5 separate regions of the Homo sapiens genome follow, and regions 1, 2, 4 and 5 are each linked to region 3. The links come from fine-mapping of genetic effects on gene expression. A gene starts in region 3. Each other region holds a variant in brackets. All regions are shown on one strand. Distances are between the middles of the regions.

Region 1 (6,315 bases), 120 kb before region 3:
TGGGATTACAGGTGTGAGCCACCGTGCCTGGCCCAAAATATTGATTAGAGAGCAAGACAAGGTGCTATTAAGAAAAACAACTTCACCTGTGGCTGAACCTAATCCTTAGCTTGAGCCAGTTATGGATGAAAGTCTTTAGAACATAGGAATATTATGATCAAATAGCTGCAGTGGGGGTAAGAGAAGTGGCCGTTAGAGATTACTTAGTGAATCATCATTCCTCATCTGCTCAGCCCAATCCCACCTAACCACCAGCCAAGCTGTCTCACCACCAACATACTCTAAGCCCCTATGGTAAATAAAAGATCTTTGGTGAGGTGAGGCCTTGCTCCCCATGACTACTTGATTTTCCACCTAGGCTTCTGTAGGGAAGTTGTTGAGGAAGGCACTCCATTTCCCCAGAGATCCCTAAAGAGCATGTACATACTTCCCCAGCTATGTGATTTAGAGCCTGTTCCTCTACCTCACTGAAAGGGAAAAAGAGTACTTATAAAATGTTTACTACTGTTAATCCTTATAACAACCCTCTGGAATTCTTACTCTTTAGACTTCACAATGAAGGGGATCGGATTGTGCCAGCCCAAAATATGCCACTTTGGCATAAGGATTATTTTGAGCTAAAGGCAATTAAGAAGCAGCAAGAAGAGAAAAGGAATTCTTTTTTTGGGGGTGTTGGGGGGGCCGGAGTCTCGCTCTGTCACCCAGGCTGGAGTGCAGTGGCGTGATCTCGGCTCACTGCAAGCTCCACCTCCCGGGTTCACGCCATTCTCCTGCCTCAGCCTCCCGAGTATCTGGGACTACAGGCGCCCGCCACCACGCCCAGCTAATTTTTTGTATTTTTAGTAGAGACGGGGTTTCACCATGTTAGCCAGGATGGTCTCGATCTCCTGACCTCATGATCCACCGGCCTGGGCCTCGGCCTCCCAAAGTGCTGGGATTACAGGCGTGAGCCACCTCGCCCAGCGAGAATAGGAATTCTTTATCCTCCCTGCTTCTGCCTAAAAGCAGGGCGTAAGTTTCCCTTTGTGAAGGTGTCCCCCCCTCCTCTCTCCAGCACTGGGAAGAGGAGAATGACTCTTAATCACCACAGACACTGGAGATGGCCCTGATTTGAGTCTGCATAACAAAGCTTACTAATTAACCCTATCTTCTTTAATTTTTTTCCCATATATTTACCTTCCCACTATTTACTGCCCCTAAAAATCCAAACTACTTTTGCTTTGTCTAGTCACTTCTCCATAATTTATTGACCTTTGTTATAATGGTACATAAGGTCTGAAGTCTAACCACTTCTTTGGATTTTTACTTTTTTTAATAAAGTTCCTGCATGCATGCATAGTAAACATTTTCTTCTTTTGTCAATTTAATTTGCAGGCCCAGTGCTTGAACCTAAGAGGGCAAAGTTTTTCCTCCCCTACAACATTCGCCACACTTTACAGATGGGAAATTGAGTTGGAGAAATTGAGGCTAAAACAGCAAGTAGCTAGTGCCAGAATTTGGGACCTGTCAGTCTGATTTCAGTCCCTATGCTCTTTCTTAACTACTCCACTACAACTTCAGTTTAGAGAAACAGAATTTTTCCATAAAGCCCAGTTGCACACAGGGGCTACACTGTATTCAAAATACATGCTGAGTCTTTAAATACTAGAATCAGACTCAGTGAAGCAAGAAACATTGCAAGGAACATGAGACAGAAGCCTAGAATCTGCTGTCCCCTCAGGAAGTCTCAATCTGGGGCACATGCCTCTTGAGTGAAGGATGGGCAAAATTTCTTGAAGTGTTTAAATCCTTCCTTGTTATGTATGATCACAATAAGGAGATTATCAAAATGTGATTTCATTAATCACACAGTTTATTGCCATAAAAAGAGAATTTTTTTTTCCTTAGGTTCACAATGCTTATAAAGGGGGAGAATAACATGAACAAATCTCACAGGGAACACACTCAATAGATGAGGGACATTAAGCATATAGTGAATGAGATCCAAAATTATTAAAGTCTAGTTGTTCAATCAGGATGGAAGCAGGCCTCTGTGGAAAGTAACATCAAATGAAAGTTTGAGTTATACCTTTTGGTTACAAGCAGTTTTTTGGGAGCGATGGCATTCAACGTAACAGAGATCCATGAGGACATGTAAGGCCCCTCAGTGCTAGAGGACAGTACCAGTATTGGTGGGCAAGGCTTCAAAGCTCAAAGATTAACAGAGCAAACCTCAGGTATCAGAGAAGTGGCTGACAGAGAGCAGCCTGGTCACAGCAAACGCTCTCTGTCTCTCATATGAGGTCTGATAAGACATCACATGCTCGAGGGGAAGAAGGAGTATATTCCAAGTTCTTGCACAGCAAAACATGTTACTCACATAGCAAACTATGGAAGTATTTGGAATCATTTCCAAGATACATAACATTCCTTCATCCCTCTTTGCTGCACACATACAGGAAAATTTACGTATATTAAATGTGCACATGAGGCCAGGCCATCATTTGTAAAACAAGGCAAGGTGTGTGGGTTTTCAAAGTACTTAGAAATATAATTGACAAAGAAAATAGATAAAAAGGATCTAAGGCCTGTACACTGGTCAACTTCCTTGCCTGTGTGTTGCTTCTAGTTGGCCTGTGGTTGTGCAGCAGAATAGAAAACATTATTTCCGCTGGTTAATAGAAGACAGGTCTGAAGCCTCACGCAATTGAAGAAGTGTTGGCCAGTGCTTCTAACAAGCTCTGCAGGAGAAAGTGCAGCTAGGAGGATAAGGAGAAAATGGAAAACCTCAGGGAGGCTTCCTCCCAGCAAGCCTGCAGGAAGGCAAGGCACTGAGCATTTCTGACAGCTCTCTTGTTTTCTGCTCCCCTATTGTATTGATAAATATCACCAAAGGGCTTCTGAGCCTCGGACCTGGTGGAAGTACTTGGTTGAGCTGTTACTGATATTATGCACACATTCATACAGCTCCCAGAGGCTCAGGATTTGTTTGTCAAGAAAGCTACAATCAACACTTTCATCATGTCAGGAAGACATTCTAGGTTGTGAGCATGAGGCTAATGTCTGCACCCCTCACTTGGATGGAGCCACTTGGTCTCACATCATGAGATGTGAGCTGTAAACAGAAATGGCAGATGCTGTACATCCCACCTCATTACCTAGTGCCTTCAAATGAAAAGCGATAAACATGCTGCTACCTTAAGCATCTTGCACTTGTTCCACATTAATGGAAACTCTATGTTCTAGCTACAAGTAGTGGATTTCAGGTTGTTGGTTAATAACAATTCACTAATTTAAAACAAACAATTGGGGCATTCATTTGAAGGGTAGTTACTAGATGAGGAGACTGAACTCTCTCAGGCTTCATTGAACTTGGTTTCAGGTGACTCTGCAATGACAGACTTTGGATACATGCATTGACTTCATCAGCAGAAAGAAAGATTTTTATAATCACACGTTCCAGGATAATAACGAGGAAGGACAGGAGAGAGAAACAAAGAGAGAAGGGAAGAGGGGAGGGAAAAATCAGTGAGGGTGAGAGGAAGAGAAAAAGAGAACAGAGAGGTAGAGAAGAAGGGAAAAAGAAAGTGACGGGGGAGGGGGAACACACAGAGGAAAGGTAGAAGGGAAGAAAAAAAGAAAAGAAAGAAATACGTTCTATCATATACCATGTGAGTTGGAATATTATGGGAAGAAAAACAATAGCAGAGAGGTTTTGTTTGTTGTTTCTTAATGCAAAGAGGTTTTTGATTGCTACTACCACAGCTGGCTGTACTCCATGGTGACTGAGTTTTGTTTTTTGTTTTTTGG[T/G]TTTTTTTTTTGGAAAAGACCTAATAGAATAACTTAAGCAACCTAGGGAAACAAAAGACACAAAGGAAAAAGGAGATAAAGTTCCAGAGTGGTGCTGACCTGATTTTAGTGACATTTCTAATCCTGCCTAGAAGTACTCAGTAATTGACAGCAGGTAGGTTTTATTTAAAAGGGAGAAGAGAGAAGGGAAAAACATCGGTCATTAAATGCTGTTTACCATTTTGGCTCCCACCTTGCATTGAACCGAAGTTTGAAAGCAATGGCTAGAATAAACAGAAATAAAAATGAGAAGGTTCCAAGGATTTCTTTTTGGCAGTACTGCAATGCGGATCTGACAGAGCCAAGGGGCCCAGGAGCAGTCAGTAAGCACTGCAGAAAAAGTACATTCACAACTCTGCAGTTAGTTGCCCTGTAGAGGGTTTTACCAGGTGGCACTCCTTTCAGTATTTTTCTGTGTAAAATGGTATAACATTTGGTCTATTTTTGCTAAAAATAATATTTTGGCAGGGACTCAGAAAAGTAAGGTCGATAACGTTTAGAGGCTTGGTACTGTAACTACCTTATGGGTTCTTCCTGCCCACTGCACAGACAAAACCAATTCACTGAGACCATGCCATTGCAATAAAGAAAGAGTTTAATCAACACAAAGCCAGCCACATCATGTGGGAGAGAGTTATTACTCAAATCAATCTCCCTGAAAATTCAGAGGCTAGGGTTTTTCAAGGATAGTTTGGCGAGCAAGGGAAGGGGTGTGTGGAAAGTGGTCCTTCTTTTTTGGGGGTGCGTAGGGGGCAGGTCTGGGTGGAGCCATCATTGTCAGAAATGCAAAAACCTGAAAAGACATCTCCAAAGGCCAATCTACAATAGTGATGTTATCCACAGAAGTAATTGGGAAAGTTGCATATCTTGTGGAATATCTCTGGAATAAGGGCTGGTAATTACTTATGTCTACACCTCAGCAGAAGCCAGGGTCCTCTCATCCTCCTAACCTGGTGGCCTTTCATTAGTTTTACGAAAGAGGTTTAGTTTTGGGAAAGGGCTATTATCATTTATACTATAAACTAAATGTCTCCCAAGGTTAGCTTGGCCCAGGCCCAGGAAGGATTAAGGGCAGTTTAGAGGTTAAAGGCAAGATGGGGGTTGATTAGATTGGATATCTTTCACTGTCATAATTTTCTCATAGTTATAGCTTTTGCAAAGGCAGTTTCAATACTGAAATCATAGTTTGAAGACCAGCAGCAGGAGAAGCATCTGGGAGCTGGTTAGAAATGCAGAATGTTGGTCCTACTCCAGGCAGACTGAATCAGAATCGGCATATTAATAAAATCCCAGGGGATTAATACACAGATGAAATTTGAGCAGCCCTGGTTAAGAGAAAAATGGTAGGCTAACATCTCAAGTATCTATTTACTGAAGGCCTTTTGTTCTATCTGAGATCCTTAGTGCTTAACTGTGTATGCCCTTGCAAGTGACATGTGCAACCTCCATCCCCTTCCCCATCTCACGGCCAAGGCAGATGTTCCCAATTGATTAATCAATGCTGGACACCAGGAACACTGTCCTGAATTGTGAAGCTGAAAAGTGATTGGGTGAAAAATCTGGCTTAGCTTTTGTGTGTATGTGTGTCTTTATCAGAAGTTCTCAAGCTTTAGCATGCATCAGAATCATCTGGAGAACTTGCTAAAACACAGAGTGCTGAACCCCAGAGGCAGAGTTTCTGAAGCAGCAGGTCTGGGGTGAAGCCTGAGAATTTGCATTTCTAATTCATTCTAAATGCTGATGGTCCAGGGATTGTACTTTGAGAACCGCCAGACACTATCCTTTCCCTACCCCTCTCCCTCATATAAAGGCATTGTCATCTATCCTTGCCCTTGTTCTCTGCAAAGTGAGGGATAGTAGCTTGATGTGGTAACAAATATTGGCTGCTTAACCTGTTATACTCAAGAGAACAGAAATTTTATGAATATCTTAAAACAAACTCCTAAGAGTATTGTCTTAAATTATCTGCAGATGGTATTTTAAAAGTAAGAGTCGGCCGGGCGCGGTGGCTCACGCCTGTAATCCCAGCACTTTGGGAGACCGAGGTGGGCAGATCATGAGGTCAGGAGTTCAAGACCAGCCTGGCCAACATGGTGAAACCCCGTCTCTACTAAAAATTCAAAAAGTTAGCCAGGCGTGGTGGCAGGCGCCTGTATTCCCAGCTACTCGGGAGGCGGAGGCTGGAGAATCACTTGAACCCAGGAAGCGGAGGTTGCAGTGAGCCAAGATCGTACCACTGCACTCCAGCTTGGGAGACAACAGTGAAAACTCTGTCTAGAAAAAAAAAAAGTAAGAGTCATGTGTTAGAGATGGAGAGGAGGTGTTTGGGGGCAGTCAGTACCATGCTATGTCCTCTAGGTACCATCACCTAGACACTTGCCTCCGTAGGCCCTACCAACAGGACCAGGGGTCAGCTTCTGTGAATGTTTCCAGCAAGGCATGAGTCACTCTGCCAGGGAAACCCCTTTCTTTATCATAAAATATAAG
Region 2 (6,315 bases), 330 kb before region 3:
GACAGATTTGGGACCTGTGGTTAGCCAGGATATTGCAGCCAATGGTGTTAGCTGTTGTTTTCTTCTTCCTGGGAACAGTGTTATTCTATCATGAGTTGCTGTAATGGCCTGAGTTAGTTGGCCTCCAACCAGGAGGTGACACTTTCAAGAGAGCACCAGCTGCGGTATTAGCAATGGAATTTGAGACTGCCCCAAGTTAGCCAGGGGAAGTATTCTGGTTTCTCAGGTGATGGGTGGGGCCATAAAGCTCCCAAGTGTTTATGTCCTTTGTGTTCAGCTAGCAGGGCAGGTAGAGAAATACCATCAGGTGGGGCAGGGTTAGGCGGGTCTCAGCTCAGATTCTTCTTGGGTGGGGCTTGCCACGGCCACTGTAGGGGATGAGGGGGTGGTTCTCAGGTCATTGGGGTTATGTTCCAGAGGGGATTATGGCTGCCTCTGCTGTGCAGTATACTTCACCAGGGAAGTGGGGAATAGCTGGTAGTGAAAGGCCTCACCCACCTCCCACACAGTTGGTGAGACTGGTCTCGCTCCCACAGTGCCCTGCTAATAGTTTAGATCCAGGCAACCTGTGTGTGGAACTCAGACCTTTACCTGGCCATTAGCTTCCCTGCTGAGAAAACAAGCATGGCTTTCAGGCCATGCCCTTCCCTGTCTGCTCACAATGTCAGTGGCTCTGTGCTTATATCTGCAGCAGATCCCACTCGCCACACCCCCACTCAGGATTCTGTTCAAGGAAGTTTGTGCACAGTCAAAATTATCACAAAATTCAGCTGGAAGCTTCTTTCACCTTGTGACCCCTCCCTAATTCTGCTGGCTCCCTTCCCCAAGGGCTCCTGTGAGATATAGTCATGGACGGCTTCCCTGGGCTGAAGCTGAAGACTGGGAGTATCTACAAAGCTCTTTCTGCTGCTGCCTCTACTTTAATATTGCACATGGCTCCATAAGTCTGTTCCAGCTGTAGGCAAAGTTAAATCCTTCTCCAGTGATACGGATTTTGAGACTCCCCAATGGGGAAGTGTTTTCAGAGGCAGGTTTTCCCCCTCGTACACTTTGGTAACTAACAGTTTTTGCCTGTCTCGTAGAGTTTGCAGCAACATGACACTTCTTTCAAAGGATCTGTAAATTCTTTCTGTTTCCCTCATACATTCCTGTGACGATTCTTGGTGCAAAAGTTCACAGTGTGAGTCTCCACACGCTGTTCTGTCCGTTCAAGTGGGAGATGCACATTAGCCCTGTGTCCTATCCACCATCTTCCTGAGTTTTACCTTGACTATTTTTAATACTGCTGCTTTGAGTGAAGCAGAAGTTAAAAAGGGAAAAAAATTTTCTTCCTTTCCTTTGGTATGAGCAGCTTCCCCATCGAATCCCTCCCTGCTCTGTGCCATTGTACCCTGAGCTACACCATTGTACCCTGCTCTGCAAGTTTTTATGAGTTTATAGATTCCTGTTTTCTGTAACTAGTATCTGTAAATCTCTGTAGCACTGCAGAGGTCATGCGACATGCTTGAGTAAGATATGATTGCAGCCATCTGGGCGCTGTAGCGAAGGACACGAGATAAGATTGTGCAGGCATCTGAGCAAGCCTAGATAACAGCCACCTGGCCCACATAGCAGGAGTCACATGAAAGCCTGAGTTATGAGCCTGTCACTGTTTGATAAACTGTCTTTGTTCTACGTGCTTTTGCGTCACTGCATTTCGTGCCACAGATGCATGTATAAAAGTCAAGCCCTGTCTTTTTCTAGGGTTCAGCCTTTTGGATGTGAATCCGCTGAGCAGGTGCCCCTAAATAAAATCCTTCTGTTCCACCCTATTGGTCTCTCCGGTCTCCTGATTCCCACAATATGAGAAACCCAGAATATGTCTTTTGGTTAACATGTGTGTGCATTTCTGATGGGCATAAAACTAGGAGTTTAATTTATAATTTATAGGGTATACATATGTTTAGATTTACTAGGCATAGCCAAACAATATTCCAAAGTAGTTGTACCAATTTATAGTTCCACCATTTTATATTTTAAAAAAAATATGTGTCTTACTTATATATATACTTTAAATACCCTCCTCACCCCTTCAACTTTTTTTTTTTAAACAAAGCATGATATTTGATTTTGTTCTTTAACCAGTGGATCAAAAAATTGTCACAAAATGCCAGATGGAAATTTTCTGTATGTGTATATAATTCTTTTCTGCTGCTTCAGAAAATGTGAGAGTCTTCTCTTTAGATCATAAAGCGACATATGACAGCACCTCTCATGCAATAGGTGCTCAGAAGTTTGTAGAATCAATGAAGTCAAAAGAGAAGAATTAGAAAGATTCATCATTTTATGATTCAACTGTTAAAGTTTATTTAAATATCCAAATGGATCCAATAAAAGAACAAACATAGAAAGAAATAATTCAATTTCCTTTATTTGTATGTTTTCAATGACCAATCATTTGTGGGGAAGAAGGTTTTGATGCTGGCACAGATTTTTTAATGCAGTCAGGGAGGAAAAAACTACAGACTAAAGATGATGTATTTGATGTTGGTATCATTATTGGCAAGAAATAATACTGTTGCAAATAGTTTTTTTAAAGATGATCAGTGGGTGAATATGAGTCTCTTCAGGACATAATCTGTGCCATATTCAGTTTTTATCTCCTATGGTGTTTGGCGTAAGTAATGAATACAATGTGATTATTTATGAAATAAATAGTTTTTAAAAACCCAAAATAAAATAAACAAGCAGAAAATTATCTGCAGTTTATTACATCTAATTCGATTTTATTTAAACCACCCAAAGTGATGGTCAGCAAACAAATAAGAGCTTTAGAGAAAAAAATAAAACAGGAGATTAGGAGAAAAGAGATGGTTATATGATAAGAAAACTTATTTGTGGGCTGTGCTTCAGGTAATATTTAACTTTTAACCTTTCTAACCCTATCATTCCCCAAATAGTTTCCTGGCATCAATGATTAAACTAAAAGGAGTATTTTTATTTTTAATCATTTATTCTATGGGAAATTATAAACTTTTATACATCTAAGCACAGCATCTTATTTTAAAATTTTTTTCAAGAAGTTTTATTTTATTCTTCTTATTGTTCTTAAAGTCTAGGTTAAGTTCACCTAAATTAATGCCTTTTAAAATAGTTTAATAAATAGGGCATTTTATAAAATTCTAATCTCAGAGGATAGATCCAGGCTCCATATTTTCTGGTTATAACCAACATCCAGTGCCCTTTAAAGAAGGGACTATATGTTGCCCTAATGTTTTCAACTCAATCTTTCAGGTAATCTAATAGCTGTACAACATTTAGACAATCCTCATAGGATGTGACAACAAGCAAAAACAAAGATGAAGTGCTAAGATTTGGAATCATTCCAGAAATGGAATGATTATCTGAGGACTTTCTCTATGTTATTTTCTACTTGGCTGTCAAGAAGATATGGGTGTTGTGGGGCAAGGGGCAGGGTGTTTGGTGGTGTTTTTTTTTT[C/T]TCTCTCTCTCTCTCCTAAATTCAGAATGTATCTAAGATTTTCTGGATATCAGAGATGCTGATGAGTCATGAAACCTTCAGGATTCTGAGATGCAATTTAATGAAGGGATTCCAAATTCCAAATTATGCAAGAACTCACTGACTAATCAGTAGATTGACAAGATTATTTGATTTTTTTTCACCCTCCTCGTTTTGAAACTGAGGGCTAACCTGATTAAGCCTGCCAAACTTAAGCAGCCTTGGCTGCTTTTAATCACTTACTTCTAGTTGATCTTAGAACTCCCACTAGCAAATCACATAGCCAAACAATACATATCTAATATTGGACTAACTTCCTTGTTGATAACATTTCTGACTGTGGATCATTACAGTAATGGTTGCTTAAAGTTGTTTTTTAGAAACTTAGGGACAGCTCCTGTCCAGTTCAAACTAGTTGAGATCACCAACCCTTCAACCAGGCTTGTGCAAATGCTCAAGAGGTAACCTTTTGACATCACATGACCAAAAACTCCTTTTTCAGATCATGCTAATGCCATTATCTGAACATGTGTCCAGTGAATAGCCATGTAGCTTGATTACACTTGCACAGAAACCCTAATTACCTCACCTTTCTTACTTGCCAATCACCTTTTCCCACACTTTAGACCACCTGTACTATTTTGGGGAAACCATATTTGAGAACTGGTCTCCTACCTCCTCGCTTGGCTGCCTCATGAATAACCCCTTTCTCTTTTGCAAAACCCATTGTTACAGTGATTGGCTTACTGTGTGTGAGCAGAAAGAGCCTGGTTAGGTATCAGTTTCTAACCTACAAATGTTTCCCTATTCATTATAGCTCCAGAGGGTATGAATGAAAAAAGAAGGAAAATATAACTCTAATAAATCTTTACTTAGGTAGAATTATCATAATTAGATTAAGATGGTTAAGTTTAAGAAACGTGAGAAGAAAACCACTGTTGACTTTAGTAATAATTATCCATGTAATTTTCTATGGGTTTTAAATATTCTTAGCATAATAAGGTAACAAAAAAATATGAAACAGTGCCTCAGACTTGTGAAAATGTTGAAAGTTTAACTCTTCTGTGATTATGTTATTAGAGCCTTGAGGCAAGAAAACAGACTGGTGGATAGGGTTTGGGTTTGTGCTTTTAGAAATGTAGTCTTGCTCTGTCATCCAGGCTGGAGTGCAGAGGCATGATCATAGTTCACTGCAGCCTCCAGCTCCTGGTCTCAAGTGATCCTCCCTCCAAAGCCTCTGGAGTAGCTGGGACTACAGGTATGTACCCCACACCCAGCTAATTTTTAAAATTTTTTGTAAAGACGGGGTCTCACTATGTTGCCCAAGATGGTCTCAATCTCTTGGCCTGTCCTCAAGCAGTCCTGCCACCTCAGCCTCCCAAAGTGCTGGGATTACAAGCATGACAAGCCCAGCCCAGGTTTGGAGTTTTACTGTGAAGAAATGGATGCTTCTATCCACAACTGTTTTTGGAAAGAAGAGAATTCAGCTGTGCAGAGAAAGAGTTATTTTTGTGGCTCAGCAGTGGAGATTCAGTGGTGTGGGCAAGAAGGAATTAAATTGCAAGCCAGAGATAGAATGAATTGGAAGTGTTAAGGAGGAAAATATAGAAAGGAAAATAAGTAGGAAACCTGACATGCATTATGCAGAACTTAGGGTTCCCAGGCATTCTGTCTCAGAAACCTTAATCCCAGCTTCCAATTTACCATGAGATCTTAAGAAAGTCACTGAATTTAACCTGCCTTCTTAAATATTTTAAACGTGACCTGAAGATTTCTCTGTACATGGTGAACTATAACCTAATTAAATGTTTAAATAGACTATAACTTGCTCTTCTACCAATCACTGAGTTTCAGCTAAAAGGTGGCCAACTGTTCAAGCCATGTTGAATTAAGGCAAATGCCAACTATAACCAATAAGCTGTTTCTGTGCCTCACTTTCTTTTCTTTCTTTTCTTTTTTTTTTTTTTTTTGGGATGGAGTTTCATTCTTGTCACCCAGGCTGGAGTACAATGGTGCGATCTCGGCTTACTACAACCTCCATCTCCCAGGTTCAAGTGATTCTTCTGCCTCAGCCTCCCAAGTAGCTGGGACTACAAGCACCTGCTACCACACCTGGCTAATTTTTATATTTTTAGTAGAGATGGGGTTTCACCATGTTGGCCAGGCTGGTCTGGAACTCCTGACCTCAGGTGACGCACCAACCTCAGCTTCCCAAAGTGCTGGGATTACAGGAGTGAGCCACCATGCCCCCGGCCCACATCACTTTTCTTTTTCTGTCCATAAATCCTCTTCGATGATGTGGCTGTCCTAGAGTCTCTCTGAATCTATTCTGGTTCAAGGGCCTCGTTAATTCCTGAATTGTTCTTTGCTCAATTAAACTCTGTTAAATTTAATTTGTCTAAAGTTTTTTGTTGTTGTTTTGTTTTGTAGACAGGGTCTCACTCGGTCACCTAGGCAGAAGTGCAGTGCCAGGATTATGGCTCACTGCTGCCTCAAACTCTTGGGTTCAAGTGATGCTCCTGCTTCAGCCTCCTGAATAGTTGGGACTACAGGTGTGTGCCACCATACCTGACTAATTTTTTTTTATTTTTTGTAGCACCCAGATTCTTGCCCAGTCTGGTCTTAAACTCCTGGCCTCACGTGATCCTCCCACCTTGGCCTCCCAAAGTGCTGGGATTTCAATTGTCAACCACTGCACCTAGAAGGTTTTTCTTTTAACACATGGCATCAGAAGTGAGACCCAAAGTGGAGCTTCCCGCATTCCCCAGGAGCATTAAGTGACCAAGCAATGTACCTACTGGGACCATTGTGTTCATTGC
Region 3 (6,315 bases):
GCCAAGGATGCTACCTTGGCCCAGTCGGCCTCAGCAGCGTTGTCTCCCCCTTGCCCAGAGCTCCACAGAGTAACTTTTAGTTGCCTTAATGAACTATGCTTTTTTTCTACCACAGGGCCTTTGCACACATTGTTTCTTCTTTCTAAAACATTTTTACACTCTCTGTCCCAAAGTTAATCTCCAGAGGGGTCAGGACTCAGGACACCCTAACACTTTCTTATCCATGTGGATCTTTCTAATATAACATTTGTCAGAGTTTGTATTTACACATCAGATAGACAGTTGTCTATGTCCTCTATTAACTCATCCACTAGACTGTGTGTTCGATGATGATGGTCTCTGTCTTGTGTTGCCTGTGTATCCCAGTACCATGCCCTGTGCCTAGCACATACTGTGAAATCAAGTATTTGAACGAAAATAAATGAAAACAATGAGAATAAGGAGAAAGGTGGACAGAATCACATTAGAAAGAGCTGATTTCTTCATATCTAGTTTTTCTTCTCTCTATGCTCAAAGTCTACCAAGATAAAAATGATTTCAATTTAGTCATAAGTCTCAAGTCCTTTTCTAGGAAGTAAAAGTTATTGAAACAGGATGAAGAAAAGACTAAATCCATATTTCTTTACAGTTTATTCAACAAGATGTTTGATACAGAATGGGGCGAGGGGCAACAGGAGGAATGTTTATAGGTGGGAGCAGACATCATTAGCTTCCTCGAGTTCTCATCACTTTCTCTAAATTTACGTCACGATTTCACCTATTTTTTTTTTTTTTTTTGAGACGGAGTTTCGCTCTTGTTGCCCAGGCTGGAGTGCAATGGCGCGATCTTGGCTCATCATAACCTCCACCTCCTGGGTTCAAACAATTTTCCTGCCTCAGCCTCCCGAGTAGCTGGGATTACAGGCATGAACCACCACACCCGGCTAATTTTGTATTTTTAGTAGAGACGCGGTTTCTCCATGTTGGTCAGGCTGGTCGTGAACTCCCAACCTCAGTTGGTCCGCCCGCCTCGGCCTCCCAAAGTGCCGGGATTACAGGCGTGAGCCACCGCGCCCGGCCAGATTTCACCTATCTTTGAGAGTTCCAGTAATGACAAATTCAGCTTTTGATGACAAATTCAGGATAACAAAAAGTGGAAAATTAAGAAAGGGATAAAACTAGCAAACAGAAGGCTGGCTGCACAGTAAAATATGTGCACTAAATAGCACTCTTTTCAGTAGGATGGGGAAACACATGTTTTCTTATTTCATTTGTTTCTGCACCTTAGCCATCCCTTTGACCTTTTAAAATGCAGTCCCACTTAATACATGATAGGTGAGTTATTTTTCTTGCCTACTTGCTTCGATTTGGGTTAAGCGCCTCAGCTTGAAAAACCCCACAGAGAACCAACAATTGCCTGGTCTCCCCCAAGTGACGGTTCTCGCCCCGCCCCGTCCCGTCTCGCCTCGCCCCGCCCCTCCCCGCTCCTCCCCGCCCCTCCCCGCTCCTCCCCGCCCCTCCCCGCTCCTCCCCGCCCCTCCCCGCCCCTCCCCGCCCCTCCCCGCCCCTCCCCGCCCCGCCCTCAACCTAGTGAGGGCTGGAGGCTGCGCAGACCTCGACGGGCCCTACATGACGTCACAAAGGGGCCAGACCAAGTGGGGCAGCACCCTGCGACCCTGCGATCCTGCCTGGCTCAGCCGCCTTCATATATCTGCTTCCTTAAGTCCACTCTTGCCCAGATAGCTTTCAGTTAAAACTAAAGAATGAAAGCACTAGGTTGAGAGCCCACGCGGCTACACCCACGTCTACTCCCCCACTCTCGCCAGGCAACCGCGCCCCCCGCCTGCAGTGGCATCGTCCGGCCACGCCCAGTGGCAGGGTTTCCAGCGCGAGCCTGCAGGCAGGCCGGGAAGGCGGAGCCAGGCCGGCCTAGAGTCACTTCTCCCCGCCCCTGACTGGGCCGGGAGCCCGGGGCTGGTCTCTAAGAGTGGGTACCGAGAACAGCCTGACCGTGGAGAAGGGCTGCGGGAAGCAGAACACCGCCCCCAGCGCCCAGCGTGCTCCAGAAACATGAGCACAAACGCCTCAGCCTCCTTCCCCGGCGGCACCGGCACCGGCACCAGTACCCGCACCAGTACCGGCACCGGCACCAGTACCCGCACCAGTACCGGCACCGGCACCAGTACCCGCACCAGTACCGGCACCGGCACCGAGCGCAAGGCGGAGGGCCCGCCCGAAGCCGGGGGCACAACTGCCCAGGTCCCGAACCCGGACTCCAGCTTGGACGACACCTCCTACAGCCTGTCCGAATGGAGCGTCCGTTCTGAGTGGCGGTCCGTCTCGGATCCGCTAGCCAGTTCCCAGTGGAGCACGTCCTCAACTGCCGAGGCCGCCTCCTGGAGCTCCAGCATACACTCCCCAATCAGCACTACCGGTCTTAGCGAGAGTACTGACTCCGACTCCAAGAGTGGCCTCCGGGGTTTCAGCGCTTACAACCCGAGCAGTCGGATCCCCAAGTCTACCACCAGCTCGAACTCCTCCGATGGGGCCGTCACAGCCTCCAATCAGGACACCGGCATTCCCTGGGTATTAGTAACAGGACCTACCCCGCCCGTAAACTCCCCCGTAGAGTCATTGCAAGGGTCTGCCTTCTCCTCAGGGTTCAGCACCCCACGGGGTTTGGTAAAAGGACCGACCCTGCCCCCGGATTCCAACCTGACCTCAGTGTCCGACTACACTTGGATATTTGTACGGGGACCTCCTATACCCAATGACCTTTCGCAAGTGTCAATACAAGCACCTCCTACACCCAGTAACACCCCCGAGTGTCAGTACAAGGGTCTGCCGCATCCTCAGTGTCCAGCTTCCCCTGGGGTTTGGTACCAGGACCACCTCTACCCAATAACATTTCCCCAGTGTCGCCACAAGCACCTCCTGCACCCCATAACATCCCCCCAGTGTCAAGGCAGGCGTCTACCCCCACCTCAGTGCCTGACACTCCGCGGGGTTCAATACAAGAACCTCCTGCACCCAGTAATCCTTTCCAGCTGCCGACACAAGGACATTCTAAACCTAATAACTCTCGCCGAGTGTCAGTACAAGGGTCCGCCCCGCTCTCAGTGCCCAGCTCCCCCCGGGTATCAGCTGAAACATCAGCTCCGCCCCTGGGCGCTCCCGGAGTATCAGCAAAAGGGTTCGCCCCGCCCACAGTGCCCGGCTCCCCCCGGGTATCAAAAGAAGGATCGGCTCCGCCCCCGGGCTCCCCGGGGGAGTTGATAGAAGGGTCCTTCCCACCCTTTGCCGTCCCCACTCCTGTGCCTACGACCCAGGAGCGTGTCAGCCAAAGCATGGAGAATCAAGAGAAGGCGAGTATCGCGGGCCACATGTTCGACGTAGTCGTGATCGGAGGTGGCATTTCAGGTCAGTGTGGACCGTAGCGGTGGCCTGGGGGACCCTGGCCAGTGAGGGGTAGGGGAACCTACAGTAGCTCTTGTGGTGTTTGGGGGTCTCTCATGCATGCGAGAGTGTAGTGTAGCCATGGCTTGGCCCCATATCCTGCGAGGTAGGAGTGGGGGTTGTGCCAGTTTTGCTGGTGGTGTGACTGGGGGAGGCAGACACAATAATTTTACTACTACTACTATTAAATACTAATATTTAATTAGCTCTTGCTGTGCAGTTGTATTTAGCACTTTACGTGGATTTTCTCAGTCCTCAACAGTCCTGTGAGGTGGGAACTAAATTCATCCCCGTTTTGCAAAACCAAGAAACTGAGGTCTGGGGAGTTTCAATAACTCTCTTGAGGTCGAATCACCTAGCTTGTAAGTGGCTGAACGATTTTCTCCCATTTAAGACCTGCAGTACTAATTCCTGAGGTGGCTGCTTTGCCTCACTGATTTCATATCCTTTGCCCTAAACAGAACATCAGGATACAGATTTCTGTAGTATTGAGGGAGCAGTAGTGTTATTCCAGTCCTGCTCTTCTCTATTTTCCGTAGAAAATTTAGTAGGTGAAGAGGAAGGAGGTAGACTCCTTTAAGAAAAGGTTAAAAAAAAAAAGAGGAGAAGAGGGGGTGAGCTCTTAAACTATTCCTGTGTGTGTGTGTGTGTGTGTGTGTGTGTGTGTGTGTATGAACTGTGTTTATATATATATATGAACTGTGTTTATATATATATATGAACTGTGTTTATATATATATATGAACTGTGTTTATATATATATATGAACTGTGTTTATATATATATATGAACTGTGTTTATATATATATATATGAACTGTGTTTATATATATATATATATGAACTGTGTGTGTGTATATATATATATGAACTTGCAGGAAGGTGTAGGACATTTATTGTCCAAAGAGAATCCCTTTATGAAGCAGGGGCTGAGTGCCCTGTTGTATCCTCCTTCCTCCTTTCACTAAGAGCTCCCACCACCTGAATCTTGTCTTCTGATGAGCCAGTTGGTGGGCCAGGGTGCCCCTGGTCCTGGCTTGGATTTGTGGCTAACCAAGTGAGTGGTGCATGAGGCTTTCCAATATCTTCCTGGAAGCCTCATCATGATTGATATATTGTCGCCTATGTTGCCATCATTGGTAAAATGTTTGAAAATTAGGAATTTTGTTGCCTTTCATCCCTGGCTAGAATACCACACTGACCTATCCTCCCCCTACTAGGTGTTAATAATTTCTGAGTTATCCCTGCAGGATCTGATTCAGAAAGAGAAAGCTGATGGGAGGGAGTAAGTAGAGTGGCCCCACAGTAGCCATTTTTATATATAAATCTTTCGAGGAGACTCTGAACATGCTACAAATTAATGTTGGGTAGAGATAGCTTTATCTGAACCCAACATTGTTTATCCTGAACAGGCCAAGAGAAGAGATTGGCATGAACTGTTGCTTTGCCAGTTCCAGCCAGTACCAGCAAAAACATACATGTATGTTGGAGCATCAGAGGAAAGCAGCTCCTGGTGGAGAGTAAGAAAAAGGAGTATTTCAGCTTGTTTCTCTTTATTTATTTATGTATTTATTTATTCATTCAAAAAACACTTGTTGAGTACCTGCAATGAAGTGGACTGCTGTTTCCCAAAATCTGGTCCCACTAGGCAAGCCTCCTAAAAGCAATATGGTTGTAGATCACTGGAAAATAAATATGATGACAATGTGTTATATACATTGACTAGGGGTTCTGGGTCCTCTCCCATCTCCATACCATCTGTATTCTGCAATTCAGAGTTCTTTCTGGGATTTTATTCTTAGTCTTTTTCTTGTTCAGTCTCCAGAATTCCTTAAGGAGCGCGGTTTTTTTATTTTTCCTCTGCCTGATTACCTGCTCTTCCTCCCTTTCTATACTTTATGCTCCATACTTGGTCATTAGCAGAGGTGAAATTACCATGTAGCTGATAAACTTTATGCTTTATGGCCTTATAACTGTAGGTTGCTTCTGGTTCTCATTCTAAATAAATAACCAGTTTCATACTCAGTCCTGTATTTGCAATTTTGCTTTCTTATTTCTTAGAGAGGATACCCAAGTTATATATAAGTTGTAGGTCCCACAAAACCTGAATCTGTCCATAGTCACTCTTAATTATTAATTTATTTCCATTTGGGGGAAGTAGAGGGCATTTCTTGCACAGTAGTTCACACCTCTATTCCAGAGGCCAGCTTCAGTGACACTGGAAAAAGCACTTGACTTCCTCTAATGCCATCTCCATCAGTCAGATCTGAGTGATTTTAATACTCAAACTGACCAGAAACATTGCTTTCTATCTGTGGTACCTTCCCAGATGGTTCACAGCTAAAATGAAAGTAGTTGCAAGTGTGGCTCGTGTTAGATCCTGGACATAAACTGAGTGTTTCATGAGCGGGTGAGAAGCATCACTTCCCAAGCATTCTTGTGAATTCAGAAACATACCATTTTTGTGTGTGCTTGGCAGTATCCCATGAATTACTTAATAGTCCCTGTGGCAGTTTTATATGCCTTTGGATGTTCTTTATAACTTTTATTAGGACTTGTACACTTTGATAGGTTACCCACACATTCATAATACATCACCAATCCATAGCATCAGCAGTGTTATTTCTATTATATAGCACCCAGAAGAGTACATATTCTAAGTGACATTACTCAAAATTGATCCATATTAGCAACATTTTTTAAATAACTCTCTACACAGAGAATAGCAGCATCTGGATGTATCTCCTTTTTTGTCATTATAAAACATAAAATAGACTATGTCTTACAACCACAAACTCTTTTTATCTGCCTAACCACCAATTAAATAATTATATATAGTATGTTAATAGTTGAGAGGGGAAATAACCCTGCTGATTTGTTG
Region 4 (6,315 bases), 32 kb after region 3:
TTCTCCTGTCTCAGTCTCCAGAGTAGCTAGGATTACAGGCACCCCCCCCACCACGCCAGCCAATTTTGTATTTTTAGTAGAGACAGGGTTCCACCATGTTGGCCAGGCTTGTTGCGAACTCCTGACCTCAGGTGATCCACTGGCCTTGAAGCCTCCCAAAGTGCTGGGATAACAGGCATGAGCCACCGCACCCAGCCCTGCTCTGATATTCTTTGCATGTAGGTTTATTGTCTTGTGGTAACAAGATGGATGCTGAGATTCTAAGCATCAAGTTCTCATTCAAGGCTGAAAGGAGAGTGAAAGGGTGGCACTAGCCTTGTCTGCAACTAAGCTTTTCCTTCGCCAAAAGACCCCAGCAGACATTTGCTTTAGTCTCATTGGCTAGAGTTGAGTCACATGGCTACCCTCAGCTGTCAGGGATCCTGGGAAAGTAAGTATTTCACAATACTAGGCTACATAATGGAAGCAGGCATGGGAGAGGAAATATCAATGGATACTAGAATAACCTACAGACAACATTTGAATTAGGATTTCATAGCAGCGATTTCAGCCACATTGTACCATGCTACCCTTCTGTCATTTGCTTCCTACCTTTTTAGATACAGGGATGTATCTAGGCCTATTTCTGCTTTGCTCAGCTCTAAGGGTGCTGTACAGCCTTGCTATGCAAAGTGTCATCTGTGGGTCAGTAGCCCCAGAATCAACTGGGATTTTGATAGAAATGCAGAATATCAGGCCCTATCTCAGAACTGCTGAATCTGGATCTGCATTTTGACAACATCTCCAGGGGACACTATAGAAGTGCTACTCTGTGGCATTTGTTTGCTTGCTTGCCTTAAACTAATGCCAATCCGGATTAAATTTTCTGAGTGCTCCCTTAGATGTAGTCCACTGGGAAGCTATTGGTCTGGGAGTGAGGAGACTGGGATTCTAGCCTCTGTACTGACTTGACATGATGTCTTGGATAAGTCCTATTAGCACTTTACATCTCAGTTTTCTCATCTGAGTAATAAGATACTATCTAAATGTCCTCGAAGAAACTCCCTTCCATCTTCAAATTCTAATTGAAGGCAGCGTGTTATAGTGCAAATGAAGAGCTGCATCTTCTGCCTGTATGCCTTTATTAGATATGATTCTTCTGTCATTTTCTGAAAAATATTCCTCCACTTTGGAGATAGTTATTAAGTTGTCCCTTAGCTCTATTTTTCTTATCTCTAAAACCTTTTGGTTATTAAACAGGAGCATTAGTCATGTTGCGGATTTTCAGTTAAGAACAAGTTTCTTTGTATAAGGGAAATGAGAATTCCAACATACTTGTCCCCATCTGTGTTATTGGCCCCAATTACTTTGCCATGCTGTGTCATTTATATATGTCAGCACCACACAGGAACTGTTATTGTCTATTCAGCATGACATTACACCCCCCTTAGGAATGTGAGAAAGGAATCTCTGAAATGCTTGGAAATTAGGACTTAGCATTTATACTCCAAATGATGAGAAGGAGAGAAAGAGGGCTTTAAGAAACAGGCATGGAGGCCGGGCATGGTGGCTCACGCCTGTAATCCCAGCACTTTGGGAGGCCAAGGCAGGTGGATCACTTGAGCTTGGGAGTTTGAGAACAGCCTGGGAAACATGGTGAAACCCCATCTCTACTAAAAATACAAAAAGTAGCCAGGTGCAGTGGTGTACACCTGTAGTCACAGCTACTTGGGAGGCTGAGGTAGGAGAATCACTTGAGCCTGAAAGGCAGGGGTTGCGGTGAGCCGAGATTGCACCATTGCACTCCAGTCTGGGTGACAGGAGTGAAACCCTGACTCAAAAAATTAAAAATTTTAAAAAAGGAAACAGGCATGAAAATTGTATTTAATAAGAAACTGAAGCAAATATTTTTTAAATTGCTTCTAATAACATAATCAATTAGGATAATTTTGGGAGGAGATGCCATAAAAGCTACTATGGATCTCTGAGTACCAGAATGTCAAATTTGGTATTACCTGGCAAGCTGTTCAGATGCGTCTTCCATTAGTTCAGAACTTGCCCGTTTTTCCTAATGTGATTCATCCATGATTCTTCAGAGTCAAATTAATAAAGTTGAAATGCCTGCAGGGCTGCCACAGGGTTGGTGTATGTTTCCAATATTGTTGCATGTTTGTGGCCTCTTCAAAGGCTGAGTAGTGAGATCTAAATCAAGACCCCAAAGACTGAGGTGCAACACAGTAGAATACAGTGTTACCGCTTCTAGTGTCTTCATGCTGAATTTGAGGCACTTCATTTAGAACGTTCTTACTTTGTAAAGGAACATTCTGCAAAATGCCTCACTCTTTTTACTGCTTCATTTAGGATTATTTGCTTTAAAGATAGTGTCAGCATTCTAAAGACATCATGTTTGGAAACTCCCAGGAGTCCCCTTGCTGTCTTTGTTAAAGCCCAGAAATTTA[T/C]TGGAGTACTAATTCCAGTTTTGTTCATTATATCTTAAAATAGTTGTTGTAGATTAGAAAAGGTTTGAAGGACAGCACTGATGGTTACTAAAAGAGAGAATAAACATTATATGAGGGCACATTAAAGAAGTCACAGAAGCACTTCATTTCTGGTATTATGGCAGAATGGAAACCCTAACTCCTCATTGAAATAAGTAAAATGCTGAATACAATATGCTGTGCTCATCTGACATGGAAGTTAGAAATTTGTAGATCTCCTGGATGTTGCATAGACATCTCAAACGTAACACATCCAACACTAGACTTCTGATCTTCCTTAAGGCCGCTGTTCCAGCTGCCCATGTTAGAAGATGGCAACTTCGAAAAAACTCAGAGTCATGCTCAACACTACCAGACCCTCATTTGTTTTGTCAGGAAATTCCGTTGGCCCTGCCTTCAAAACATATCCAGAATTCAACGCTTCCCACCACTTCCACTGCTATCCCCTGGTGGGAGCCACCATTATATCTCTAGGCCAGATTACTAGAGTAGGCTCCTGATTTTCCTGCTTTTACTCCTGCCGCCTACATTCTGTTCTTTCTTAGTGCATCAGTGAGAGTGAGCCTTTCAAATGTAACTCAGATTTTAGCATTTCCCTGCTCAAGACCTTCCAACGGCTCCCCTTCTCACTGACAGCCAAGGCCTATGTCCTTACAATGTCCTGTGAGGCTTTACGTGACCTGCTCTGCCAATAACCTCTGTAACCTCATCTTCAATTTTTTTCCTTGCTCACATTGTTCCGGCCACTTTGGCCTCCTTGCTATTTCTTGAATATACCAGCAGACTTCTGTATTACAGTCTTTAGATCCATGTTGCTAGGAGTTTTTGCTTTTTTTTTCGAGACGGAGTCTCACTCTGTTGCCCAGGCTGGAGTGCAGTGGGACGATCTCACCTCACTGCAGCCACTGTCTCCTGGGTTCCAGCAATTCTCCCGCCTCAGCCTCCTGAGTAGCTGGGATTACAGGCTCACGCCACCATGCCCGGCTCATTTTTGTATTTTCAGTAGAGATAGGTTTTCACCACATTGGCCAGGCTGGTGTGTTTTAATTTCTACACCTGGAATGTTTTTCAGTTATTTTTCGTCATCACTGCATTGTGGTCAGAGAATATTGTTTCATGGTAACAATCCTTGAGGCTCGCTTTATAACCTAGCAAGCACATGGTTAATATCCAAAGATCTTCTAATTTCTGCTTGAAAAGAACATGTAGTCTCTAAAAGCTATATGCAGTGTTTTATATATGTCCACTAGAATAAGCTTAACTGTGCTCCTTCTTTTTTGTTTGCTTAATCTATTAATCACTTTTAAAAGTATGTTAAAAATTCTCTGTTCTACTGGGCACTTATCTTTGGTTCCTGTCAAATGTTGCTTACATTTTGAAGCTATATTACTCAGTTTATGCAAGTTTAAACTTGGTTAGCCTTCTGGATCTTTTAGCATTATGTAGTGACACTTATTTCACTGAGATTTATTTTGTTTAAGGTTTTCTTTGATATTAATATAGTTATAACAGCTTACATTAGTATTTGTATATCTCTTTATCTTTCAGTTAGAGTTTTCTTTATTCTGACTTTTTTTCCTTTTTTTAAATTTTAGATTCAGGGGGTACAGGATTTTTATTTATTTATTTATTTATTTTGAGACAGAGTCTCACTGTGTTGCCCAGGCTGGAGTGCAGTGGCGCAATCTCAGCTCGCTGCAACCTCCACCTCCTGGGTTCAAGCTGTTCTCCTGCCTCAGCCTCCCCAGTAGCTGGGATCACAGGCGCTGCCACCACACCCAACTAATTTTTGCATTTTTAGTGGAGTTAATTGACAAACTTGGTCCATCTATATTTGTTATGATTTCTTTTTTAAATGTTTTAACTTTATTATATTATGGCTTTCCATTTGTCCCACTTTAACAGTTTTCCTCTTGGTTTCTTTCTTTCCTTCTTTTGGGTTAATGGTTTTCTTCTTTTTGTTTTCTTTTTAAGTTTTTTCTTCTACTTGTTCAGAAGTTATATAGTCAGACCAATGTTTTTCAGACAATTTTCCTAACTATATTAACACTCATACTTAATGTAGTCTAAAGTTTATCAACATACTATCTTTCTACTAAAAAATACAAAAGCTTTCATGCTTCAGTTGTGAGCACCCTTCTTCCAATCTGTAAACTATAAAAGTATTTCAAGTTTGTATGTTTCTCAGACATTATTAATTTTATTTTATTCTATTGTTGATGTTGCTTAATTTTCTTTAAAGTTTTGCCAGTATCTTTGTTCACTGTCCATTCTTGAATCTCAGACCTTTTATTTGTAACCATTTTCATTCTACTTGAAACACACCCTTTCCTCCAATCTGGGTCCTAAACTCTGTACACTTGTCAGCTTGACAAAAACATAGTTCTAACAGGTAACAAATTCTACTTAGAATTTCTCTTCCTCTTTTTTTTTCTCTCAGAACAGCAAAGATATTATTCCCCTATCTTCTGGCTTGTATTTTTATTGTTGAAGAGTCACTCGTAAGTCTAATTGTTGATTTTTTTCAGAGTATGTATGATTTGCCTCTTTTGTTTTCTGAAAAAGAATTGCTTTTAGGAGCTCTTTTCTTTGGTATACTGCAGTTTCTCTGTGTCTGGGTGAGAATTTCTTTTTTATTTATCATTCTTTGGACCTGTTGGGTTTCTTATCTTCCAACAATGCTGGTAAATCCTCAGCCACTATTTTTTAATACTACTTAATATTTTGACACCATCTTCCATGTCTTAACTACCTCCTCAACATATTTTCCAATTCTTTATCTTTGAACTGCATTCTAGATAATTTATTCAGATCTAGCAGTTTACTCACTCTTTAACTATGTCAAATATATGGTTTAATCCATTCACGGAGTTTTAAAAATTTTAATTAGTACATTTTTATTGCTAGCAGTTATTTTTTAATCTACTTGATAATATTTTCAGTTTCTTTTCCCCTGCTCCTAGTTTTAATGACTTATTTTATTTAAAATATATTGCATAGTACTTTTAGATTCTGTGTATAATTCAACTATTATGAAATCTTTCTGGATTATTTTTTCTGCTTATTTTCTTTTGGTGCCTTGTTTGCATGTATGTTTTGTAACTTTTGGCTGTGGGTTGCTAATTTTCCATGGAACTTTATCTGTGTGTAAATTATTTGAGGCATAGGGGAAAAGGACTTAAGTCTACTTCTACCACCGTCCTTGACACTTTAAATTTTCTGCCCAAGTTTTTTCATATCATATGGATAGCTTAAATTCAGATGGAAAACATAAATAAAGATAAGCTTTTTTTTTCCTTTTCTTTGTGACAATACTTAGAGCTGCAAAATAATGGAAAATATAAAGTCGTGGATGCAGCTAAAGCAATACTTAGAAGATGTATAGTCTAAATTCTTCCATTAGAAAAGAAAAAGGCTATATATGAATAAGCTAATCATGCAAAGAGTTAGAAAATTAAGAGCAAAATAAATCCAAAGAAGGGGTAAAAAGGGAATAAATCAATGATGTAGAAAATAGACACCCAACAAAGAGGATCAATAAAATAAAAGTTGATTCTTTGAAGAGACCTATTAAAGATACACAAGAAGTGTCTGATAAGATTTTTCCAGAAAAAGAAACACCCCAAATAAATACGAGATCAGAGCCAGATGTGGGGCTCACGCCTGTAATCCCAACACTTTGGGAGGCTAAGGCAGGTGTATCGCTTGAGCTTAGGAGCTTGAGATCAGCCTGAGCAACCCTAACCCTACAAAAAATACAAAAATTAGCTGAGTGTGGTGGCACATGCCTGTGATCCCAGCTACTCAGGAAGCTGAGGTGGAAGAATTCATAGAGCCC
Region 5 (6,315 bases), 120 kb after region 3:
TTTCCACTTATAATATTTTCAATTTATGGTGGGTTTATTGGGATATAACCCCATCATATTTTGAGGAACACCTGTATTAGTATATTGATGACAACACATGAAATATATAGAGAGCCTAAGGGTACTCAGGAAGGAACCCTTCCTACAAGAGAAGGTGGATTGACTTTCCCCGTGTTGATTAAACAATGCCGTTTTTCACTACATGTTTACTTTTTTTTCAATGGAGAAAACTAACCCCAGCTGGAGACCTCTAGGAGGCCTGGCTAGACCCTAAGAATGAAATATTAGAAGACAGAACAAAGGCTTAGAGAACTAATCATACTATAAATCAGAATATGTGAAAACCAAGAATTAATTTTAAACAAAGAGATAGTTTCCCGCCACTTGTCATTTGGAAATTATGTTCCTTTAAGGGAAAAAAAGAGTCCAACAACCAGGTAAGAAAAATACCTGCCCCTTCTTTTGCAGGTGCGTGAACAGACAGTATATATTTACAAAAGATATAGGACATCATAAAGGGGAACTCCACATATATTTCTTGTGGCTTATGAGTTTTACTGCATAATCACGACAATCATTTTTTTCACCCTATCCAGAAGAAACATTTCTTAAGAAATGTATATTTAGTTCTTTACCAAGTTGTACTGGTAATTCTGTCTTCTCTTTTCCTTCAGAACATGTACTGTGAACTTTCAGGGCTCTGAATATAAAACTTATTGCAATATCTTAAATACCATGGCCCTGAAGGGTCAAGGGAAGTCTTCTGGGCAGGTAGTCTCTGTTCAAGCTGGGAATTATGTTAAGCTATGCTGTGCCTTAGTTTCTACCCTAAAAATTGAAGGTAGTTATAGGAAGCCTGACATATATCCCTGGGAAGGAATAAAGATAAAAGAAGGCATTACTGTATCACCACCAATGCCAGATACAATGGGATTTATCTTGCTTCTCTCACGTGGTCAGGATCAGGCCAGTTCAGGTTAGTGTCCTCTTTGTTCCCCAAACCAAAAGGTATTTATGAAATTGAGCATAAAACCCACCACTCTGTGGTCAGAAATCTAATCATATCACACTTCTGATTTAAAACAAAGCCAAAAACAAAAGTAATGCAGTGATAGCTGTTCTCTGTTGAAATATCAAGTTTTGTATTCCTGAATGTGTCATATAGGGCAAACTGTTCTTCCTCCCCCTTTGATCTGATTCTCCATTCTGTCCTTAATATCACCCATAGCCCATCTGATATAATATTTTGATATTTGTCCCTGCCCAAATCTCATGTAGAATTGTAATTTCCAATGCTTGAGGTGGGGCCTGGTGGGAGGTGTTTGGATCATGGGGACGGATCCCTCATGGCTTGGTGCCTTCTTCATGATAGTGAGTTCTAGCAAGATCTGGTCACGTTAAGAGTGTATGGTACCTCTCCCCACCACACTTGCTTGTTCCTGCTTTCGCCATGTGACTTGCCTGTTCTCACTTTGCCTTCTGCCATGATTGTGAGCTCCCTGAGGCTTCACCAGAAACTGAGCAGATGCCAGCACCATGCTTGTATAGCCTGCAGAACTATGAGCCAATTAAACCTTTTTTCTTTATAAGTTCCCCAGACTCAGGTATTTATTTTAAGCAATGCAAGAATGGCCTAATACACCATCCATGCAAAGTTCTTCCCCAGACTTTCCAGAAACCTGTGGGATCCTAGCGTTTTCCTCATGCCATTCCATCTGCATAGACTGCATCCCCAATAGCCTTTCTCTGCCTCCTACAACCCTCAGGTGGTATGTGCATTATGAAGCCTTCCCAGATTTCTCTAAGTAAAGCTAGCCTGTGCCTCTGTGTGTTCCAGTGGTATCTCTATGCCCCTGTATTAGAGCATTTACCTCAGTGGTAACATTCTGAGTGGTGATACAGTAGTGCCCTCCTTTATCCTTATTCCCTTCCAGGGACATATGTCAGTACTTTAGAGTCAATTTTTGATATCATGTCCTCTCCCCATCCCCACCCTAGCCCTCAACACTGTCAGCTCCTTCTCAGCAGGGAGGCTGTCCTTGGTATTGAAGTTCTCAGCACAGTGCTTCGCAAATGGTTGGCACTTAGCCAATAAATGCAGAATGAAACAAATACCATTGACATATTCTACACTCAGTGATACGATTTGGCTCTGTGTCCCCACTCAAATCTCATATTGTAGCTCCCATAATTCTCATGTGTTGTGGGAGGGACCCAGTGGGAGATGAGTGAATTATGGGCGGGGGTCTTTCCTGTGCTGTTCTGGTGATAATGAATGGATCTCACAAGATCTGATGGTTTTAAAAACGGGAGTTTCTTTGCACAAGCTCTCTCTTTGCCTGCTGCCATCGACGTAAGATGTGACTTGCTCCTCCTTGCCTTTTGCCATGATTGTGAAGCCTCCCCAGCCATGTAGAACTGTAAGTCCAATAAACCTCTTACTTTTGTAAATTGCCCGGTCTCAGGTATGTCTTTATCAGCAGTGTGAAAATAGAGTAACACAGTCAGCATATCTAAAAATTAACTTAATGACCCAGCAGCTTATCAGGTGCTGCCCCTTGGCCCCAGAATGTTCTCTTGGATAATATTTTGCCATCTTTAAGCAGGTAAAGAAAGTGCTAACCAAAGTTATTACGTATCTTCTGATAAGCAGGTTTTACTCCTTATTCGACCAGTTTTCATGGACAGATTGATTAGCCATTTCCACTTACCCCCTCTGTTTGCTGCATACTTTCAACAGTCTTTGACTCACTAGTCTACATTTCTCATCCTGTTTAGATTAAGCTTTTGGCATTAAATTATTGCTTGGTTTAGTAATAGTATAATAGTCATAAAAATCACTGCTATATTATTAGTTCATTTATTGTCATCAAATAAATTAACTAAACAACAACACACTTGGATGTATAATGCTGTGAATGCTAAAAGCCATTGAACTGTGCACCGTTTTGAATAGGTGAATTGTATGGTATGTGAATTACGTCTCAATAAGGATGTTAAAAAATAACTCATACTTCCCAGCATCTAAGGATTAGGATCAAAAAATAAAAAAAACTCATACTTTCTTGAGCATACTGATTATTGCTCACTTTTCATCATTTTGTGCTTTCCCATCCACTTGCTAAGAAAGTGAGGTTCAGAAAGGAGAAGTGACCTGTTTGGCATGACAAAGTTTGTTATTGGTAGAATCAGAGCTGGGACCCAAGTCTCTTCATGCCCAGTCTAGAACTCATTTTGTTTTTATAATTTTGTCCCCGTGTTGGCAGTTGTACAGTGGCATTTGAGGAAGTTTTACTGAGTCCTAACTCAGTATAAGGACACTTCTTCTGACATTGGGTGAACCCTTGGACTACCTAAAATGCTACTCTTTTTTGATTTTTAATTTTTATGGGTACAGAGTAGGTGTATATATCTATGGGTACATGATGTGTTTTGATACAGGCATGCAATGCGTAATAATCATATCATGAAGAATGGGGTAAAATGCTATTCTTATGCTGAAACCTTCTATGGTTATATTGATTGGAATTGCTCTTCCAGGGAAAAGCAGCACCATGATGTATGTATAATTATAATGATTTCATTCATAAGATACACGATTTCATTCATAAGATACAAAGGAAATTGGGTT[GT/G]TTTTTTTTTTTTTTTTTGTATTTATAAGAAACAAGGGAGAAGAGCTACCTGAACCTATTTAGGTTTTGGATTCAGGTGCAGGGGATTTCTGTAACAGCTTAGCATGCTTTTACTCTACCTTCCATATTGAGTCAGGATCCCAGGGGGGAAATAAGTTGTGTAGCAGCCCCCAGAGTACTGCTCCTCACACCAGTTCTTTTCTTCATAATGCACTGGCTGCAAGATAGAGCAACAAAAACTTGAAGGAGACTCAGAGAAAGCTATTTAGCCTAGAATAAATCGAACAGTTTAGTAGGCTTTGTATTGTCAAACCAATGTATTTCGGAAATAGAGTTGCATTATCCTGATGTTTTTAAAGATATGTCTTTGGGCAGGTAAATGTCCTTGGTAATAAGCTTCTAAGAAATTCAGATCTTAGAATGTTTTTTTCATTTGGTTTCTTTGTATCTTAAGTACTGTTCATAAATTGCGATAATCTAATTCCATTTTTACCTTGGTTTTACCTATTAAAAAGTTTTAGTGCCTGATGGTTTCAAGAAAAGTTTTTAAAAGGATTTATGTTTACTGGAGTGACTGGATAGGAAAAAAAGACAGAAAAATATGTCTGTTGAAGAAAAAGGATTATCAGGTTCATGTTTTGGTGGAGGTGAGCTTTCTTGAGGGAGGCTGAACAAACATGTTTTTGTGGCAGGCAAGCACTTCTGTTGATGGTGGTATTTGTAAACAACTATTGGTCTGAAAAATATGTTTTTGACACGAACAGGAAAAATTGGCAGAGATTTTGTAAAGCTCAAATGCTTTTTTAAAGTAACCAAACAGAAGCTTTATCATTAAGCATTACTTCGAAAAGATAAAATCAACGTAGCAAGTTTTAAGAAAACAATGTTTGTTTTAAAGGGAGATTTTGAAAAACATTTTGTTTAAAAGAATTGCAATCACACAGCTGACTTTGGACAGTCATTTGTAAGGCATCCTATTTACAAAGTATGATTATGAGGTTCTGCCTGATGGGTTAAGTGGCTCCAGGTCTTCTGTGGTATCACCACGCTACACGCCCCAGCACCTGACGGCTACATCCACCTCCTAAGCAAGCTTCTCTGGCTGTCTCCAGCCAATCAGAAGAAAAGTTGGACTTTATCTTTCAATGTATCTTGTTCCCAGGAATTTCTTCCTTCCACAAAATAGACACCAAAGCAAAAAGAAAACAAGTGGCCTTCTCTATGCCAAGAGCAAACAAGGACAGGACCAACTTATTTTTATCATCAGGAATTAATCATGCACACCCTTCTTAGGAAAAGAGACTTTCTCAAATGAAAAATGATCAGCCTTTTTCAAAATATGAGGACAAATGCTTTCCCCTTCAACTGAAGTTCCCCAAACAACCATCTCACGAGTTGTTGCAGGAACTTCAATTAACAAACTGCTTTAGCCTGGGAGTGCCTCAGAATGTAACTTCACAAAGCTTGAATATCTACCAGGGTGAAATATCTTGAATGGCTTTTTTTTTTAAATCAACTCCACACTCTTTATTCTCCAGACCTCTAGCACTGAATGGCATTTTTTTTTATTATACTTTAAGTTTTAGGGTACATGTGCACAACGTGCAGGTTAGTTACATATGTATACATGTGCCATGTTGGTGTGCTGCACCCAGTAACTCGTCATTTAACATTAGGTATATCTCCAAATGCTATCCCTCCCCCCTCCCCCCACCCCACAACAGGTCCCAGTGTGTGATGTTCCCCTTCCTGTGTCCATGTGTTCTCATTGTTCAATTCCCACCTATGAGTGAGAACATGCAGTGTTTGGTTTTTTGTCCCTGCGATAGTTTGCTGAGAATGACGGTTTCCAGCTTCATCCATGTCCCTACAAAGGACATGAACTCATCATTTTTATGGCTGCATAGTATTCCATGGTGTATATGTGCCACATTTTCTTAATCCAGTCTATCATTGTTGGACATTTGGGTTGGTTTCAAGTCTTTGCTATTGTGAATAGTGCCGCAATAAACATACGTGTGCATATGTCTTTTACACTGTTGGTGGGACTGTAAACTAGTTCAACCACTGTGGAAGTCAGTGTGGCGATTCCTCAGGGATCTAGAACTAGAAATATCATTTGACCCAGCAATCCCATTACTGGGTATATACCCAAAGGATTATAAATCATGCTGAATGGCATTTTTAAACAGAAAAACTAATAATTTTTAACAGATGTTAAGTTCTGTTTTTAGTGAGTATATACTGTATTTTTTGTCTTGATACTTTACTCAATATCCTTGAGCCTGGAGGCTATGCCTATATTTAAACTTGCTAATTGGTATATGAAAGCAAAAAAAAAAAGCAAAACATATTCCTCATTAATATTGTTTCTCTAATTGTTCTAGTTTATTTGCTGAGAAAGAATTCCAAGAAACATCAAGAGCATGTGTTTCACCTGTATCAAGTACAGAAGATCTGCAATGGTGGGGCGAGGAGGGAGGGAGAGAATTTTGCTTTAAAATAGTGAACAAAAATGACAAATTTGAAAGACACAACAACTTAACCAGGAGGAAGCAAGTCACTCCAAAGCTGAGCAAAGTAAGTGTTAGAGTAATAGGACTAAGTCATGTAGCTGCTCAACTAGATTGTGGTATATACTACAGAGACTTGGATTTAAGAGGCTTAACAAGTTAAACATTCT

Which allele goes with the higher level. Positions count from the first base shown, and alleles are read on the strand shown. Sizes are in standard deviations (SD) of each study's normalised expression. Not every link is listed here.
For the expression in monocytes of the gene that starts at base 3,284 in region 3, allele T in region 1 goes with a higher level than allele G (moderate effect, 0.55 SD a copy in Fairfax 2014).
As copies of T replace C in region 2, the expression in monocytes after interferon gamma of the gene that starts at base 3,284 in region 3 goes up (large effect, 1.7 SD a copy in Fairfax 2014).

What was found. PIP is the estimated chance that this variant, and not a neighbour inherited with it, causes the effect.
Region 1: its variant is the best candidate, but not a certain one, in a credible set for the expression of MAOA in monocytes (Fairfax 2014, PIP 0.62).
Region 2: its variant is the best candidate, but not a certain one, in a credible set for the expression of MAOA in monocytes after interferon gamma (Fairfax 2014, PIP 0.51).
Region 4: its variant is the best candidate, but not a certain one, in a credible set for the expression of MAOA in whole blood (TOPMed, PIP 0.57).
Region 5: its variant is the best candidate, but not a certain one, in a credible set for the expression of MAOA in monocytes (Fairfax 2014, PIP 0.54).

What each region holds. Positions count from the first base shown.
Region 1 is chrX:43,536,535-43,542,849 of GRCh38, forward strand. No RefSeq gene overlaps it. Among named protein-coding and RNA genes, the nearest start is that of MAOA, 120 kb to the right of the region's middle. The variant T/G (reference allele first, on the strand shown) is at 3,790.
Region 2 is chrX:43,326,979-43,333,293 of GRCh38, forward strand. No RefSeq gene overlaps it. Among named protein-coding and RNA genes, the nearest start is that of PINCR, 150 kb to the left of the region's middle. The variant C/T (reference allele first, on the strand shown) is at 3,479.
Region 3 is chrX:43,653,016-43,659,330 of GRCh38, forward strand. MAOA (monoamine oxidase A) reads left to right here and starts at 3,284. Exons shown (of 15, transcript NM_000240.4): 1 at 3,284-3,399. The coding sequence starts at 3,327. RefSeq lists a silencer at 1,792-2,186 and an enhancer at 2,118-2,177.
Region 4 is chrX:43,684,983-43,691,297 of GRCh38, forward strand. All of the region lies in intron 2 of MAOA (monoamine oxidase A), which reads left to right. Among named protein-coding and RNA genes, the nearest start is that of MAOA, 32 kb to the left of the region's middle. The variant T/C (reference allele first, on the strand shown) is at 2,439.
Region 5 is chrX:43,771,424-43,777,738 of GRCh38, forward strand. MAOB (monoamine oxidase B) reads right to left here. Exons shown (of 15, transcript NM_000898.5): 12 at 3,752-3,849. Among named protein-coding and RNA genes, the nearest start is that of MAOB, 110 kb to the right of the region's middle. The variant GT/G (reference allele first, on the strand shown) is at 3,632.